Linked DNA regions of Homo sapiens: region 1 is linked to region 2. A link means that fine-mapping ties the variant in region 2 to the expression of a gene that starts in the linked region. Tissue or cell type: whole blood. Region 2 holds a variant in brackets; the other region holds the start of a gene. All regions are shown on one strand. Distances are from middle to middle.

What was found. PIP is the estimated chance that this variant, and not a neighbour inherited with it, causes the effect.
Region 1: it holds the start of SNAPC1, and the variant in region 2 is fine-mapped to the expression of SNAPC1 in whole blood (TOPMed, PIP above 0.99).

What each region holds. Positions count from the first base shown.
Region 1 is chr14:61,757,962-61,766,103 of GRCh38, reverse strand. SNAPC1 (small nuclear RNA activating complex polypeptide 1) reads right to left here and starts at 3,684. Exons shown (of 10, transcript NM_003082.4): 1 at 3,516-3,684. The coding sequence starts at 3,643. RefSeq lists enhancers at 2,714-3,457, 3,458-4,201, 4,269-4,358, 4,202-4,945, 4,946-5,690.
Region 2 is chr14:61,789,441-61,797,625 of GRCh38, reverse strand. SNAPC1 (small nuclear RNA activating complex polypeptide 1) reads right to left here. Exons shown (of 10, transcript NM_003082.4): 9 at 4,724-4,819; 10 at 1,198-2,677. The coding sequence ends at 2,643. Among named protein-coding and RNA genes, the nearest start is that of SYT16, 19 kb to the left of the region's middle. The variant TA/A (reference allele first, on the strand shown) is at 4,782.

The DNA of each region.
Region 1 (8,142 bases), 32 kb after region 2:
TAGCATAGGTCTTTGAATAAATTTTGCTTCTAAGATAAGTTACTATTTAGTCTTAATTAGATGGGGAGGAAACTCTTTGAAGCAGAACCTCTACTTTACTTTTTACCTAACGAACATTTTCTCCAATACTCTCAGGGATTTGCACTAAATCTCCTCTGTCCTTGCGAAGCCGAGGCGAAAAAGATAGAGAAACAGCACAAAGTAACCCGCACTCCTAATTGTCCAGAGCACTGCAAGCTCATCAGAAGAAAGGAGGAGGAAGGGAGAAGAGCATACTCCAGCATACAACCAAAAGCTTTGTCCAAACATCCAAGAGAGCAACAAGGCTTTGTTGGCAATCAATCAATGAAATAACATAGGAAATGTACATGAAAGGAAAGTATCTTGGGCACCCAAGATCACTAAGGAAAACTCAAGCTGGAAACTGCTTAGGGCAAACCTCTCCCATTCTATTCAAAGTGACTTCTCGGCTCACTGAGATAGATGCATATCTGATTTGCCTCCTTTGGAAAAGCTAATCAGAAACTCAAAAGAACGCAAGCATTTGTGTATCACCAATCTGTGACCTGAAAGCTCCCTCCCCACTTCCAGTCTTCCTGCCTTTGCTTCAAGTTGTCCCGCCTTTCCAGAACGAACCAACGTACTTCTTGCATATATTGATTGATGTCTCATGTCTCCCTAAATGTACAAAACCAAGCTGTGCCCTGACCACCTTGGGCGCATGTCAACACGACTTCCTGAGGCTGTGTCACGGGTGCGTCCTCAACCTTGGCAAAATAACCTTTCTAAATTAACTGAGACGTGTCTCAAATTTTCGAGGTTCACATATATTTTCTGTGGATATAAACAGCATAATGAATAAACTATCTGAAACTGTTCTGCTGTGCTAAGTTAACAAAAAATTTTAAAAAACAAGGCCTTAAAAAAGTCAATGTAACAGTCTTCTTACCACTTTGGATAAAACAATGAAGCCACATTTGTGCATATTATAGGTTTCTATGTAAGACCTGAAATTAGTAGATAAAAAATGCCAGATTTTAAATAAAACATTAGCTAAAATAAATGTCTCAAAGTGTTGATGCGAGTGACTAATACGCTATACAAATATAAATATGTAGAACTTTTACTTTAAAACCAGCAACAAACAATAAAGACATTTGCCCTGCAGCCATAAACACGGGCTCTATTATATCTGATTACAATGCAGGGGTGGAAGGGAAGGGGGTAGTAGGAGGACATTTTGGGTCTTCAAATAATAAATATAGGAAAAGAATACAAAATGCCTACTCTAGTTACGGTAACCAAAGTAATTTCTCAAGAAAATCCACCACTCTAGTGATTCCTGCTTCTTTTATCATTTTAGGTTCTCCCTACTAGAAAATGTAAATGTTACATTTTTAGCTTTTTCCTTAAATGCATTTTTCCCCCCAAGAAGTGGTACAGTGGAATATTAACGGATTTTAGAAACAGGCAGATACATAGTTTCCAACATCTGCTCTACAATCCACTATCTTTGTAATGGTGGAGAAATTACTTAACCTCTTTAAGCCTTAATTTCCTCATCTATAAAACAAGGATAATTATACCTGCTTTTTATAACTGTCTTATGCAATAAATAAAGCTATAAATAAATGGCATGTAGTAGCCATTTAAAAAAAAAAGTCTCTCTCCTTTTATTAACTGTACAACAAACAGCTCTTCATCCTCCATTCCTTGCAATTTAAAAAACTACAAAGGTAATTTGCTTACACTGACAGAGAGAAAATGAGTTTTTACATTTTGTTCAGAAAAAGTTTTAATCATAAGGTTTAACTCATTCAGAAAATCAGTTATTTCGCCTTTTTAATATTATATGTACTATGGTAATAAAAATAGATTCATCCAGTCACTGTCCTCACAGAGGTCAGTCTAGTCAAAGGAAAATTTTAAAACGGTAGTAATAATGAACATTTGACCAGCCTGGCCAACATGGTGAAATCCCGTCTCTACTAAAAATACAAAAATTAGCCAGGCTTGGTGGCACAAGCCGTAGTCCCAGCTACTCGGGAGGCTGAGGCAGGAGAATCTCTTGAACCCGGGAGGTGGAGGTTGCAGTGATAGGAGATCGCACCATTACACTCCAGCCTGGGTGACAGAGCAAGACTATGTCTCAAGAAAAAAAAATAATAATAATGAACATTTATTGAGCACTTAGAATGTATTTCTGATATATCAGCTCATTTAATCTTCACAACTACTATGAGGTTTATCATTGCCTCTATTTTACAGATATGGAAACTCAAGTAACTTGCCCCAAGTCATAGCGGACCCTGCAATCAAATGCAGCCAATTGGGTTCCATAACCTATGCCCTTAACAATCCCACACTGCCTTTTCAACTATACCATTACAACAAAATGTGGAAAGCGGTGACATAAAATAAAAACAGGGTGCTATGCGGGGAAAAAACATGAACAGCGTACTCAGTCTAGAAGAGCAAAAAAGACTTCCCCCGAGGATGTCATTTGAGCTTAACCCTGAGTGAAGAATAAGGTGGACAAAACAAGAGAGTTGCGGTGGAAACTCCAGGATTAGGAAAAGCCTGTAGAGGGCCCAAAGAAAAAAAAAAAAAAAAAAAAGCAGCTGCTGGAGCAAGAAAGTGAGTGCATGGAGGGGACTGGCAGGCGAAGCTGGAGAGATAGGCAAAGGCCAGTGAGGAATGGTCTTGGCAAGTCAGAGAATTCAAGCGTTATCCCAAAGGCAATGGGCACCACTACAGAGTAATAAGTCGGGGAGTGACATAATCAAATTTGCACTTTTGAAAAACAACTTTTGGGCCGGGCGCGGTGGCTCACTCCTGTAATCCTAGCGCTTTGGGAGGCCGAGGCGGGCGGGTCACGAGATCAGGAGTTCGAGGCCAGTCTGGCCAACATAGTAAAACCCCGTCTCTACTAAAAATACAAAAAATTAACCGGGCGTGGTGCCGGGCACCTGTAATCCCAGCTACTCCGGAGGTTGAGGCAAGAGAATCACTTGAACCTGAGAGGCGAAGGGTTGCACTGAGCCGCGAACGCGCCATTGCACTCCAGCCTGGGCGACAAAAGGAGACTCCGTCTCAAAAAAAAAAAAAAAAAAAAAAAAAAAGACAACTTTGGTTGTTGGAGGAAAAATTAATTCAATCTTGAAGGGTTTTGTCTTTGCTTGTGTGTTTTTAAACATCAGGTCCTAGAACAAGACTGGGGAAGGGCAAATGATAGTGGCCTGGCTCAGGGTGGAGATGGGAGAGAGGAGTTTAGAAGGGAGGCCAGGCAGAGACGCATATTTGGGAGGAGGCCGCAACAACCATCAGGGCACAATGAAATAGAGCAGGGAAAGCGCGTTGCCTGAGCACAGGGGAAGGTCCAGGAGTCATGGAGGCAACCTTCGGTGACTGCCGCTCTTCTCAGCCCTTCACAAGTGCAATATCGCCGGGAAGGAGGCAACTTTCTACACCACCTGCGGGCAGGGAGAGGCGGGTGGTGGACAAGAAACACCCACCAGAAGATAGTCCCGAACTTCATGTTTCTCCAGAGCTCCGTGAAGTCCTCGAAGCGTACACTGTCCGTCTCCTGGAAGCGGCTGAGCAGCGCCTCGCAGTCGGTCTGCAGGCCGGGAGGAGTCCCCATGGCACCCGAAGCCCGCACGCCTCCGAAGCCCGCACGCCTCTAACGGACTAGCCAGCGGTGGTCGCCCAGGAAACCAAGCCCGAACGGCCCGCCCCCTACGGCGTGCGCACACGCGCTCCGTGATGCATTATCCGGCACCTTTAGCTCCGCCTTTATCCGGGCTCTTGCCACCGGTCGTGTGCTTACTGCGCGTGCGTGAAAGCGTTCTGATGTTTTACTGGCTGAGATTGCTTTCACCCAGAGTGCTGAGATCCACCCTTCTTTGGAAGAGGTTTACGTCTAAAGTGTTGTGTTTGCTCACGAGCGGTTTTAGGTCTTCATTTTCCGCTAGGTTATGTAACTTGACTTTACCCTTACTAGCACTCTCCTTTAAACTGACCCTAGTGTGACATAAGTGAACTTTTGAGCTAGGAAAGAACAGTCCCAACCCCAACCCCACTCCCACTTGGGAAGAGAAGCTAAAGAAGGCTTGCTAGGAAACAAACTGCACTCATTCTCCTTCTGGTCATCGAGAACCCTAATACTCTGTACCCACATAATACGATGCTTAATGTGCGGCCCTCTCTTTGTAGCCCTGGCATTCTGCAACCACTCTTGAAAAGAAGAGCTGCATTTCATACCCTCTTGTAAACAGCCCTCCTCCTGCCCTGCCACGCATTCACCCCTGTGCTACATAGCACTTAGCAGAAAATACCTACTTGTTATATTCTTGTTATATTATTATTTGGATGAATTGCCTTTTTGTGTACACGCTGCCACCTAGCTTCCTTCCTCCAGGAGCTAGCTATGGAGTAACATTTTGAACTTTAGATCATTTCTCTGATTGAAAGGTAAGCTATCATTCTTTAGAAGAGGTATCCTGATATAATAGAAAAACATTGGGCTTTCTGTGTGTAAATGGAGTGTCAACTCACTTTACTTTTCTGATCCTTGACCTGTTTTTGTTTGTTTGTTTGTTTGTTTGGATTTGTTTGTTTTTTGTTTTGAGACGGAGTTTCGCTCTTGTTGCCCAGGCCGGAGTTCAGTGGCGCGGTCTCGGTTCACTGCAACTTCCGCCTCCCGAGTTCAAGCGATTCTCCTGCCTCAGCCTCCCGAGTAGCTGGGATTACAGGCATGCACCACTCCAACCGGATTTTGTTTTGTTTTGTTTTGTTTGTATTTTTAGTAGAGACAGGGTTTCACCATGTTGGCCAGGCTGGTCTCGAACTGCTAACCTCAGGTGATCCGCTCCCCTCGGCCTCCCAAAGTGTTGGGATTACAGACGTGAGCCACTGCACCCTGCCCTCTTGACCTGTTTTTTAAATGTTATGTAATATTTTATGTCACAGAAAAATTTATGCGATGTGTGAGATAAAAAGCATAGCAGTTAAACACCTGTACACCTTTCACCTGTGTAGGAACCAGAACATTACCAACGCCTTCACATCAATCTGCGATTTCCTCCTCTGACCTATTCCTTTGACTGTACCCTACTTTAATCACAGCTACTGGTTGGGCACGGTGGCTCACGCCTGAAATCCCAACACTTTGGGAGACAAAAGCAAGAGGATTGCTTAAGCACAAGAGTTGGAGACCAGCCTGGGAAACATGGTGAAAATTAGCCGGGCATGGTGGTGCACACCTGTAGTCCCAGCTACTCGGGAGGCTGAGGTGGGAGGATCATTTGAGCCTGGGAGATGGTGGTTACAGGAGACAGAGGTTGCAGTGGTGAGCCGAGATCGTGCCACTGCACTCCATCCTGGGCTACGGAGTGAGACCGAATCTCAAAAAATAAATAAATAACTACCTTGAATTTTGTTTCTCTTTCTCATGTATATATTTTATCACATATGTATGTATATTTAAACGGTATATTTTTTAGTTGTGGTTGGTTTTGAGTTTTATGAAAATGGTATTGCAACTGGCTGGGCGCAGTGGCTCACGCCTGTAATCCCAGCAATTTGGGAGGCTGAGGTGGGTGGATCACCAGGTCAAGAGTTCGAGACCAGCGTGACCAAAATAGTGAAACCCCGTCTCTAATAAAAACACAAAAATTAGCTAGGCGTAGTGGCGTGTGCCTGTAATCCCAGCTACTTGGGAGGCTGGGGCAGGAGAACCACTTGAACCTGGGAGGCAGAGGTTGCAGTGAGCCAAAATGCATTATTTCCCCCATGATAGAGTGGGGGAACCATTTGGGAAATGGTTCATTACAACAGATAATTTGAGAAGCACTGTTATACACCATTTCAGTCCACATTCCATTGGCCAGAACTCAGTCACATGGACCCATTCAGGTGCAAAGGTGGCTGAGAAACGTCATCACTAATTAGGCAACCTCTCCCCAACAATAGTTTCAATCGCTGGAAGAGGTGCACACGTCTTTGTTGGACCACGTATTAGCTCATTTCTGCTGCTATAACAAAATACCATAGAATAGGTAGCTTACAAACAACAGAAATTTATTTCTCACAGTTCTGGGAGGCTGGGAAATCTAAGATCAAGGTGCTGGCAGATTCCGTGCCTGGTGAGGGCTGCTCTCTGCTTTCAAGATGGCACCTTGTTGCCGTGTCCTCACATGGCATAATAGCGGAAGGACAAAAGAGGCCTAGCTAGTTCCCTCCAGCCCTTTTATAAAATCACTAATCCCATTCATGAGTCCTCATGACTTAATTACCTGCTAAGGCCCTACCTCTTAATGCTATCACATTGTTAATTAAGTTTCAACACATTGATTTTGGGAGACATTCAGACCAGAACAGACTGCCAACATGTCTGCTGCAATTTTATTCAGAAACTCTGAAAGTATTACCTTTCACTTTTAATTTACTGTCATCCATCTAAAAATTTATTTCTATGTATGGTATAAGGATCCTATTTCACTTTTTTCCATATGTATAACCATATGTATGTATATGTATTTCCCGTATGTATAATTTTCCAGCATCTGTTATTGAAAAGTCCATCCTTTCCCAAAATTCACTTCTGTTATATGTCAAGTTGCATGGCTAATTGCAAACAGTACACAACTATGGCTTTGTACCTGTTATTAAAATACCAAACCATAGTGCAGTATTTCCATTACTGTTAGTATAACAGTTACCACTCTAAGCCTCCTTACTACCCTCATCCCAAACACTTGGGCCCCCCAGGCCACAAATCCCTCAACCTCCCAGCCTCTAAAACTGAAGTGGTTAAGCCTGGCACAGGAAGGAACCTTCAGTGCCGGCTCCAGCTTCAGTCTACTCCTAGGGTTGTTATCTACTTTCAAGGCTCCATTTAGATTTCACTTCTCTAACACCACACTAATTACTACAGAGTATCTTGACTATTCTTGAATTTTCACTTTTTCATATAAATTTTAAATTTGACTTGTCAAATTTCTCTGATAGCGCCATTGGGATTTCAATTGAATTACATTAAATCTGTAAGTCAATTTGGGAAGGAATAACATCTTTTTTTTTTTTTTTTTTTTTTTGAGATGGAGTTTCATTCTTGTTGCCCAGGCTGGAGTGCAATGGCGCGATCTCAGCTCACTGCAACCTCCACCTCCAGGGTTCAAGTGATTCTCCTACCTCAGCCTCCCAAGTAGCTTGGATCACAGGCATGTGCCACCATACCCAGCTAATTTTGTAGTTTTGGTAGAGATTGAGGTTTCACCATGTTGGTCAGGCTAGTCTCAAACTCCTGACCTCAAATGATCCACCCGCTTCTGCCTCCCAAAGTGGTGGGATTACAGGCATGAGTCACTGCGCCTGGCCAAAATAATATCTTTATTGTATTATTTCTATCCACAAACATTTCTTTAAGTCACCTGTAGCATCTTTACTGAAGTTTCATAATTTTTCTCCCTGAACTTTTTACTTGTCTTTTGTTAGATTTTTCTTATATGTCTTATGTTTTTGTGTGGCTATTGTATTTAGTATCTTTGCCTTACATTTTCTAACTGCTTGATTCCAATATATAAAAATGCAATTGAATTATATATATTTATTTAGTATCCAGTCCCCTTGTTTAAACTCTTATAATAATTTTTCTATTGATTCTTTTAGGCTTTCTATATAGATGATATCTGCAGCTGTGAATAACAGTAGTAATAATAGTTTGCTTTTTCCTTTCCAGTCCTTATCGCTTTTATTTCTTTCCCTCTTACTTCATTTCCCAGGCTAAGACTTCCCATACTGTTAAAGATAAACCTGGGAGAATGGGTGTGTGTTTGTTCACTAATGTACCATCAGCACCTATAAGTACTTGATACACAGTAGGTGCTCAATGAAGTGATGTTTTTATTTGTTATTTTACTTTTTAGCTCCAGAATTTCTATTTGGCTCTTTTAAAAATAATTTCTAGCTATTTGTGTTCTGTATTTGATGAATTATTGTCACCATACATTCCTTTACATCTTTACGCAGAGTTTCCTTTGATTCTTTGAATATACTTTTAATGACTGCTCTAAAGTCTTTATTAAAAAGTCAGCCATCGAGCCCTCTGTTATGTAATTTCTCTTGCATCCTTTTTTCCTG
Region 2 (8,185 bases):
TAGTATTTGGACTTCATACTTTAATTTTGAAAACTCACTGTAAAACACAGATTGAACTCTGTTCAATGAACTTCAATTTCATATTTAAAGCAAGTCTATCAACTGATTCATACCTTATCTTCAACATATACTCATGAAAAACTCACTATTGCGGCCGGGTGCGGTGGTGCACTCCTGTAATCCCAGCACTTTGGGAGGCCAAGGCAGGTAGATCGCTTGAAGTCAGGAGTTTGAGACCAGCCTGGCCAACATAGTGAAACCCCATCTCTACTAAAAATATAAAAGCCGGGCATGGTAATGCATGCCTGTAATCCCAGCTACTCGGGAGGCTGAGACAGAAGAATCGCTTGAACCCGGGAGGCGGAGGTTGCAGTGAGCCAGGATCATGTCACTGCACTCCATCCTGGGTGACAGAGGGAGACTCTGTATCAAAAAAAAAAAAAAAAAAAATTAGCCAAGCATGTGGTCACACACCTGTAGACTCAGCTACTCAAGAGGCTGAGGTGGCAAGATAGCTTGATCTCAGGAGATTGAGGCTGCAGTGAACCAGGATCACATCACTGCTCTCCAGCCTGGGTGACAGAGCAAAACCGTCTCAAAAAAAAAAAAAAAAAAAAAAAAAAAAAAGGAAAAAACGGAAACCTAGGTATATGAAGCCATCACGGAACTGATGTACTATATAAGCCAGAGCCAGCCTTTGTTGGAACTCACCTGATTTTAATAAATTTTCCTTCTCGTTTAAGCCATTTTGAAGTGGAGTTTTACTGCTTATAGTTAAAAAAGTATCTTTCTGGATTTCCACGTGTTGGCTTATTTAAAAAAACTGAAATTATAAGACTGAGCCCTGTGTTTATAACTCAGAAGCATGACTTACTAACTTTGTGAATGGGGGCAGGGCACTAACCATCTTGAGGTACAAGTGAAACAATAGCATGTATTTTATAAGTACAGTTATGAAAAAAGAGAGGGCAACTCAGTGTGTTAGCTGTACAATGTCTATAAACTTTTAACAGTCAGACAAGTTCTGGCAAACAACCTAGTATATCAAGTGGGGCCAATAATGGATCTACACCCCAACCCTAGAATGTTTAAATCCAAGATGCTCCACCTAATGTCTACATTATGAAAACTGCCCCCTCTATGACCAAATATATTTGAAGTCAAAGGAATCAAAGGAAACAATTGTGACTGCATGAATGCTAATAAATGAAAATTTTATTTGCGTCAGCATTAGCATTCTGATTTTTAAAGATTAGATATAGAGATATCACGAATTTGATCTTCAACCCAAACTTTTTTTTTTTTTTGAGACGAAGTCTCACTCTGTTGCCCAGGCTGGAGTGCAGTGGCACGATCTCGGCTCACTGGGTTCACACCATTCTCCTGCCTCAGCTTCCCGAGTAGCTGGGATTACAGGCGCCCGCCACCACGCCTGGCTAATTTTTCGTATTTTTATTAGAGACGGGGTTTCACTGTGTTAGTCACGATGGTCTCGATCTCCTGACCTCGTGATCCGCCCACCTCGGCCTCCCAAAATGCTGGGATTACAGGCATGCAACCCAAACTTTAAATCCCTTAATAATACCATGCTGGAAAACAGCATGAAGTATAATCAACTGTGAAACAGGTTAAGGCTGGGTACAGTAGCTCACACCTATAATCCCAGTACTTTGGGAGGCTGAGGCAGGAGGATAGCTTGAGCCCAGGAGTTCAAGACCAGCCTGAGCAACATAGCGATACTCCATCTCTATTAGGGAAAAAAAAAAAACAGTTGAGCCAACAACATGATAGGGATATGGTCTGCTATTGGCAGCAATTCAAACAACATGGCTCAAGCAATCTCTATTAAAATGTCTGGAACAAGAAATTAACAGAGTGGCATATTCATGAAGCTACAGATTTTTTTTTTTCTGTTAATATCAACTATTCTGTACCAGAGACACATTCTGAAATTTACATTATTATTGTTAAAGATTTTATTAGAAAGTACTTAAATACTTAATACATTAGTATTTAAGTACTTGTTAGTACTTAATTAGTATTTAGTAATAATAAACAAGCACTAAAGAATATTTAATTGCAGAAGTAGAAAATACATTGTGAACTTCCTAAGTTATCAATCACGTTATGAGAATGTAAGTTTTATGTATTAAAAAATAAAGCAAGGCAAAAACTTTATTGCACTTAACAATATACAAAATAGAATAAATATACAAAATAAAAAATCCATTATCCGACTGTAGATACAAAATAGTTATTTGCATGTAATAAACATTAATATTTCAATAAAAAATATTTTAAATAAAATAGAATAGTATTACCAGACTGTATTAGGACAGTATAGTATCACAAAACCTTATAGGAAATAGTAACAATCTGCGAATAACAGAATTTTTTCTATTACATACTAAATACAAGTTTTATCTCCATTTATGCAAATCATTAAAGAAAATGTTAAAGAATTCTTATTCTAATTTTTTGTACTTTTATTCTAGAACTACGTATTGCAATTTCCAAGAAATAACCTACAGATTCCCAGAAGGATTTTTTTAATACTGGCAGTCTTCCTGTTCAATACACAAAATATCAATCTTTTCTTCTGTCAGAAAACTCAAAATTAAAAACTACACCAGGCTCTTTGTTCAGTGTTTTCTCCTCTTCTTGGATGCAGTGAACTCTAAAGACATAAAGTTTAAAAGTCAGTCAGATCTAAAAACAAAAAAAAAACAAACAAAAAAAACAACTGACACTTACATGATAATACCTAATTGATAATACACATTTCAACTACATAGACGTCTAACTGGTACAACACAATAAGAATGCCCTCACAGCAAAGACACAACAAAAAAATCTTAAACCTGACATATTCAAGAATTTTTTCTTCAAAATGATACAGCAGTTTAAAACATACTATCGGCCAGGTGCAGTGGCTCACGCCTATAATCCCAGCACTCTGGGAGGCTAAGGTGGGCGAATCATGAGGTCAGGGGATCGAGACCATCCTGGCTAACATGGTGAAACCCCATCTCTACTAAAATAAATACAAAAAATTAGCCGGGCGTGGTGGTACATGTCTATAGTACCAGCTACTCAGGAGGCTGAAGCAGGAGAATTGCTTGAACCCAGGAGGTGGAGGTTGCAGTGAGCCAAGATCGTGCCACTGCACTCCAGCCTGGACGACAGAGCGAGACTCCATCTCAAAACAAACAAACAAACAAAAAAAACACATAACAACAAAAAATACTACCTCCATTAAGGTAGTAAGATCTCAATCCTATTGCAATATCAATCTATTGAGATAGTGGCCCTTAGTCATTCTAAATCCTAATTAATAATAAGTTACTGTGAAGTTGTTTCATATGGGTACACCCTCCCTATAATTATATGAACCCAGGGTACTAGATCTCAAAGGTATTTAGGCCAGTACTAAGAAGAAGAAAATGACTAAGATTTCAATTTCATTTCAATTAAACCTAGAAATGTAACCCAAAACACCAGTACCACACATCATTCTGGCTACCACAGGAGATGCCAGAACCAACACTCGAATAATTGTCCATCTAGAAACAGCACGAACCTAAAGTTTACTGATCATTAAAAGCAAAGAAAGTAATAGAAAACACAAAAACATGAAAATTACAAAAGATGTGGCAAAAAGAAATATTCCGGCCGGGTGCAGTGGCTCCCACCTGTAATCCCAGCACTTTGGGAAGCCAAGGCAAGCGGATCACTTAAGGTCAGGAGTTCAAGACCAGCCTGCCCAACACGGTGAAACCCCATCTCTACAAAAATACAAAAATGAGCCGGGCATGATGGTGAGTGCCTGTAATCCCAGCTACTTGGGAGGCTGAGGCAGGAGAATCGCGTGAACCTGGGAGATGGTGTTTGCAGTGAGCTGAGATCACGCCATTGCACTCCAGCCTGGGTGACAGAGCAAGACTCTGTCTCAAAAAAAAAAAAAGAAAAAAAGAAAAGAAAAAAAAATATTCCCCACCAGTGAAAAACAAAAGGGAAATGGCAGAAAAAGAAAAAGAGAAAAGACAAGTAAAAAAAACAAATTAAGATGAAAACAAATTCCTAGGCCAGGCACGGTGGCTCATGCCTGTAATCCCAGTACTTTGGAAGGCTGAGGCAAGTGGATCACTTGAGCCCAGGAGTTTGAGACCAGCCTAGGCAACACAGTGAGACCCTGTCTCTACAAAAAATACAAAAATTAGCCAGGCATGGTGGCATGTGCCTTCAGTCCCAGTGACTCAAGAGGCTGAGGCGGGAGGGGAGGATAGCCTGAGCCGGGGAGGTCGAAGCTGTAGTAAGTCACTGTGATCAAGTCACCGCACTCCAGCCTGGGCAACCCAGCAAGACCCTGTCTCATGAAAAAAAAATAAAGAAAACAAATTCCTGGAAGAGAGCAGCAGTCAGGATTAGAAGTACTGGAACACTGTCCAGATGAAAGCAGGTCAGAGGTCTGACAGAGACATCTCTACAAAGATGAAACTGATAGGATACCTAATGGGTATCCATACCATTCATTTATTGTATTATCCCTGACTTTGAGATGTCATTAATGATATGACTAATACTGAAATTCTCCAATGGGTCAAAGATGAAAGGATCACAAGAACACACAGCAAACTGTCATGTTCCTCAAGGGTTCTAAACCTTGATGCTCTACGAGTATAAGTTAGTTTACTTGACTAGTTTGACCAAATTTTATCTGTACCTGTTCCACTCAAACTTTCATTCTCTTCTTCTTCTGTAATTACAGGCATACTCAGACT[TA/A]AAGGTTTATCTTCCTTGTGTATATTCTGCACATTGCCTAGAAATATTTAGAAAATGATTTTATATGAAAGCAAAGAATATTATAATCTTTGAGAAAACATTTTACAAAAACTGTCATTATTACAGCATAAAAATTAGACATGTAAAAACTGAAACTGTAATGGTAACAGAAATACGCATTCTAGAATACCTATATTTTTTCAAATACTAACATATTTGTATTTATACTTTGAAAATAGTCTCTAGTTCTTCCACTAGAGAAAACAGAGAAAAAAGGAATAAACAAAATTAGCCAAACACAAATACCATATTTAATCTTTACCACACATGACAGGGGTTATATCTGCAGCCATCAAAGAATAATCACATATGTTACTTCAACTTTATTAAATTAATTACAAATGTAATTTTTGAGTTTAACAGCCTTACTTTTGGATGTGAACATACTTTCTTTTCTCACCACATATGCTCTACAAGATATATTCCTCTAGTCATAATTTGCGATTGACTTTCCATTTTCAAAAACACTAGAGGTTCTCTACATCAACCTTCTGTTACCTGAAGAAGTATCCCAACCAAATTTATCAGATACCATTGTCATATCAAGTACCATTTAGCACACAATTTCCATGTCCCAAAAGCAACCCCCATAAACAGTGACTATTTTTTATGCTGTTTTTCTTTGCCCCAACACTTTTATCATTTGATATGTTATATCTTGCTTTTTTTTTTTTTTCTTTTTTAATGGAGTCTCACTCTGTCACCCAGGCTGCAGTGCAGTGGCGCGATCTTGGCTCATTGCAACCTCTGCCTCCTGGGTTCAAGCAATTCTCCTGCCTCTGCCTCCTGAGCCTGCACACTGAGAACAGAAAGATGTTCACTACAATAAGTGTAACAGAAACACTATTTTCTTTTTTTAAAAAGACATAAGAACAAAGCATTGTGGCATGAAGCCATTTAATATAAACTGCCGCACACTTAAGCTATTTTTTTTTTTGAGACAGAGTCTCTCTGTAGCCCAGGCTGGAGTACAGTGGCGTAATCCCAGCTCACTGCAACCTCCGCCTCCCAGGCTTAAATGATTCTCATGCCTCAGCCTCCTGAGTAGCTGGGACTACAGGTGAATGCCATCACGCTCAGCTAATTTCTGTATTTGTAGTAGAGATGGGGGTTCCACCATGCTGGCCAGGCTGGTTTCAAACTCCTGACCTCAAGTGATCCACCTGCCTCAACCTCCCAAACTGCTGGGATTACAGGCGTGAGCCACCGTGCCCGGCCTATTTCTTGATAGAATCATTACATTATAAAACCCAGTAACATAATCCTCATGATGGTGACCATGACTTGTCAGGAGAAAATTAAATTATGTTAAGGATACAGTGTTCCAGAAAATAAGAGCATAAAATATATTTGACTTTAATGTATTTATAATTACAAAAATGATAAATGTAGAAAAAAGGAAACATATAAAAGAGAATGCAATATATTTGAGAAAGATAGCAAAAAATAATTAAATTTTTAAAAAGTAAATTTTGGCTGGGGGTGGTGGCTCATGCCTGTAATCCCAGCACTTTAGGAGGCTGAGGTGGGTGGATCACAAGGTCAGGAGTTCGAGACCAGTCTGGCCAACATGGTGAAACCCTGCTTCTACTAAAAATACAAAAATTAGCTGGGCATGGTGGTGGGTGCCTGTAATCCCAGCTACCCGGGAGACTGAGGCAGGAGAATTGCTTGAACCCAGGAGGCGGAGGTTGCAGTGAGCCGAGATCGCGCCACTGCACTCCAGCTCTGGGCGACAGAGCAAGACTCCATCTCGGGAGGGAACAAAAAAGTAAATTTCAACATTGTAATCATTAACCTCAATTATCCATAAAACTAACTCCCTAGAAGGTCTCAGGTGGGCAGTTTTACTATGCTCAAAGCTAAATGTGTGGGGTGCAATGATCAGTAATAGACCACTACTGATTATCCAAACAAATGATTACTAGTCAGGCAGCTAGAATGCAACTAACAACAAATTTACTTAAGTGTATGTCTAATCTGAGCTCCAGATCCACACCTCCAGTGACCTGGGAGGTAGCACAGTATGACAGTTAAAGAATCAGGCTTGGATTCAGACAGACTCGTTCCAGTCTCAGTTCTGCTATGTATTATCTAGAAGGTCTTGGACATGTGAGAAAAAGTTGGTCAGATAAAAAGTGTTACATAGCCGGGTGCGGTGGCTTGCGCCTGTAATCTCAGCACTTTAGGAGGCTGAGGTGGGTGGATTATTTAACGTCAGGAGTTCGAGACCAACCTGGCCAACATGGTTAAGACTCCGTCTCTACTAAAAATACAAAAATCAGCCAGGCGTGGTGGCGAGCGCCTGTAATCACAGCTAGTGGGGAGGCTGAGGCAGAAGAATCGCTTGAACCCAGGAGGTGGAGGTTGCAGTGAGCCGAGATCGTGCCACTGCACTCCAGCCTGGGTGACAGAGCAACACTCCATCTCAAAAAAAAGTGTTAATAAATAGTAGTTGCTATCATCTTCATCCATCATAGCACTGGTATTACTGATGTCCTGTCAACATGCATGTTATATTCGAGGAATGGTGAGCACATAATTAAAGCTTAAATAACATAAGCTTAAGTAAATTCCATCAATATACTGAGCACCCATTAATACACCAAGCAATTATTACAGAAATCAGTCTGGCAAGGCGGACTGGAGCGAATTCTCCCCCCAATGAAATCTTTATTGTGTCATTGTATTTCTCCAGCAAGGACACAAATATCCTCCCAGGTGCTCAGACATTAAGCATTCTTGTCTCACCCCTCTCCACTAGTCTCCGTATTTGCTCTTATGTCTGTTAGCCTTGCTTCTCTAATTCCTACAACCATGTGGCACACGCTCGTTACTCCTAAATCTGAACTACCGCAACAGCCCTCTACTTAGTGTTCCTATTTTCAGTTTGTTCCCAGCTACCTACCATTCTACTCCCAGACTGATTTTCTTCAAGGAAAACTTTGGGCATGCCACTTTCTTGCTCAAAAGTTTCAGCTGACTCCCCCTCTGCCTACCAATTGAAGTGTAAACTTCTTGATTCCACATTTAAGGCCTGGTCACAATACAATCCTCAACATATTTTTCCAGCACTTTTAACATTTAACTCCCCAACATATCCCCTTTACAATCCAGCCTAAATGGACCCCTCACTCTATACTTCCCAGCTACTTTGCCTTTTTCACACCAGCCCCTCTACTTGTCTGAGTCTATGAAATTATGTTTACCTTATTTGTAAAAAGGTCTTTGGATTTCTACTGATTACTAAAGTAACACTTGGTTATACAAAATCCAAACGTTACAGACATTTATGGGTAGTTTCTCATTATACTATCCTTGAAAATTAACCACTGGTAATACT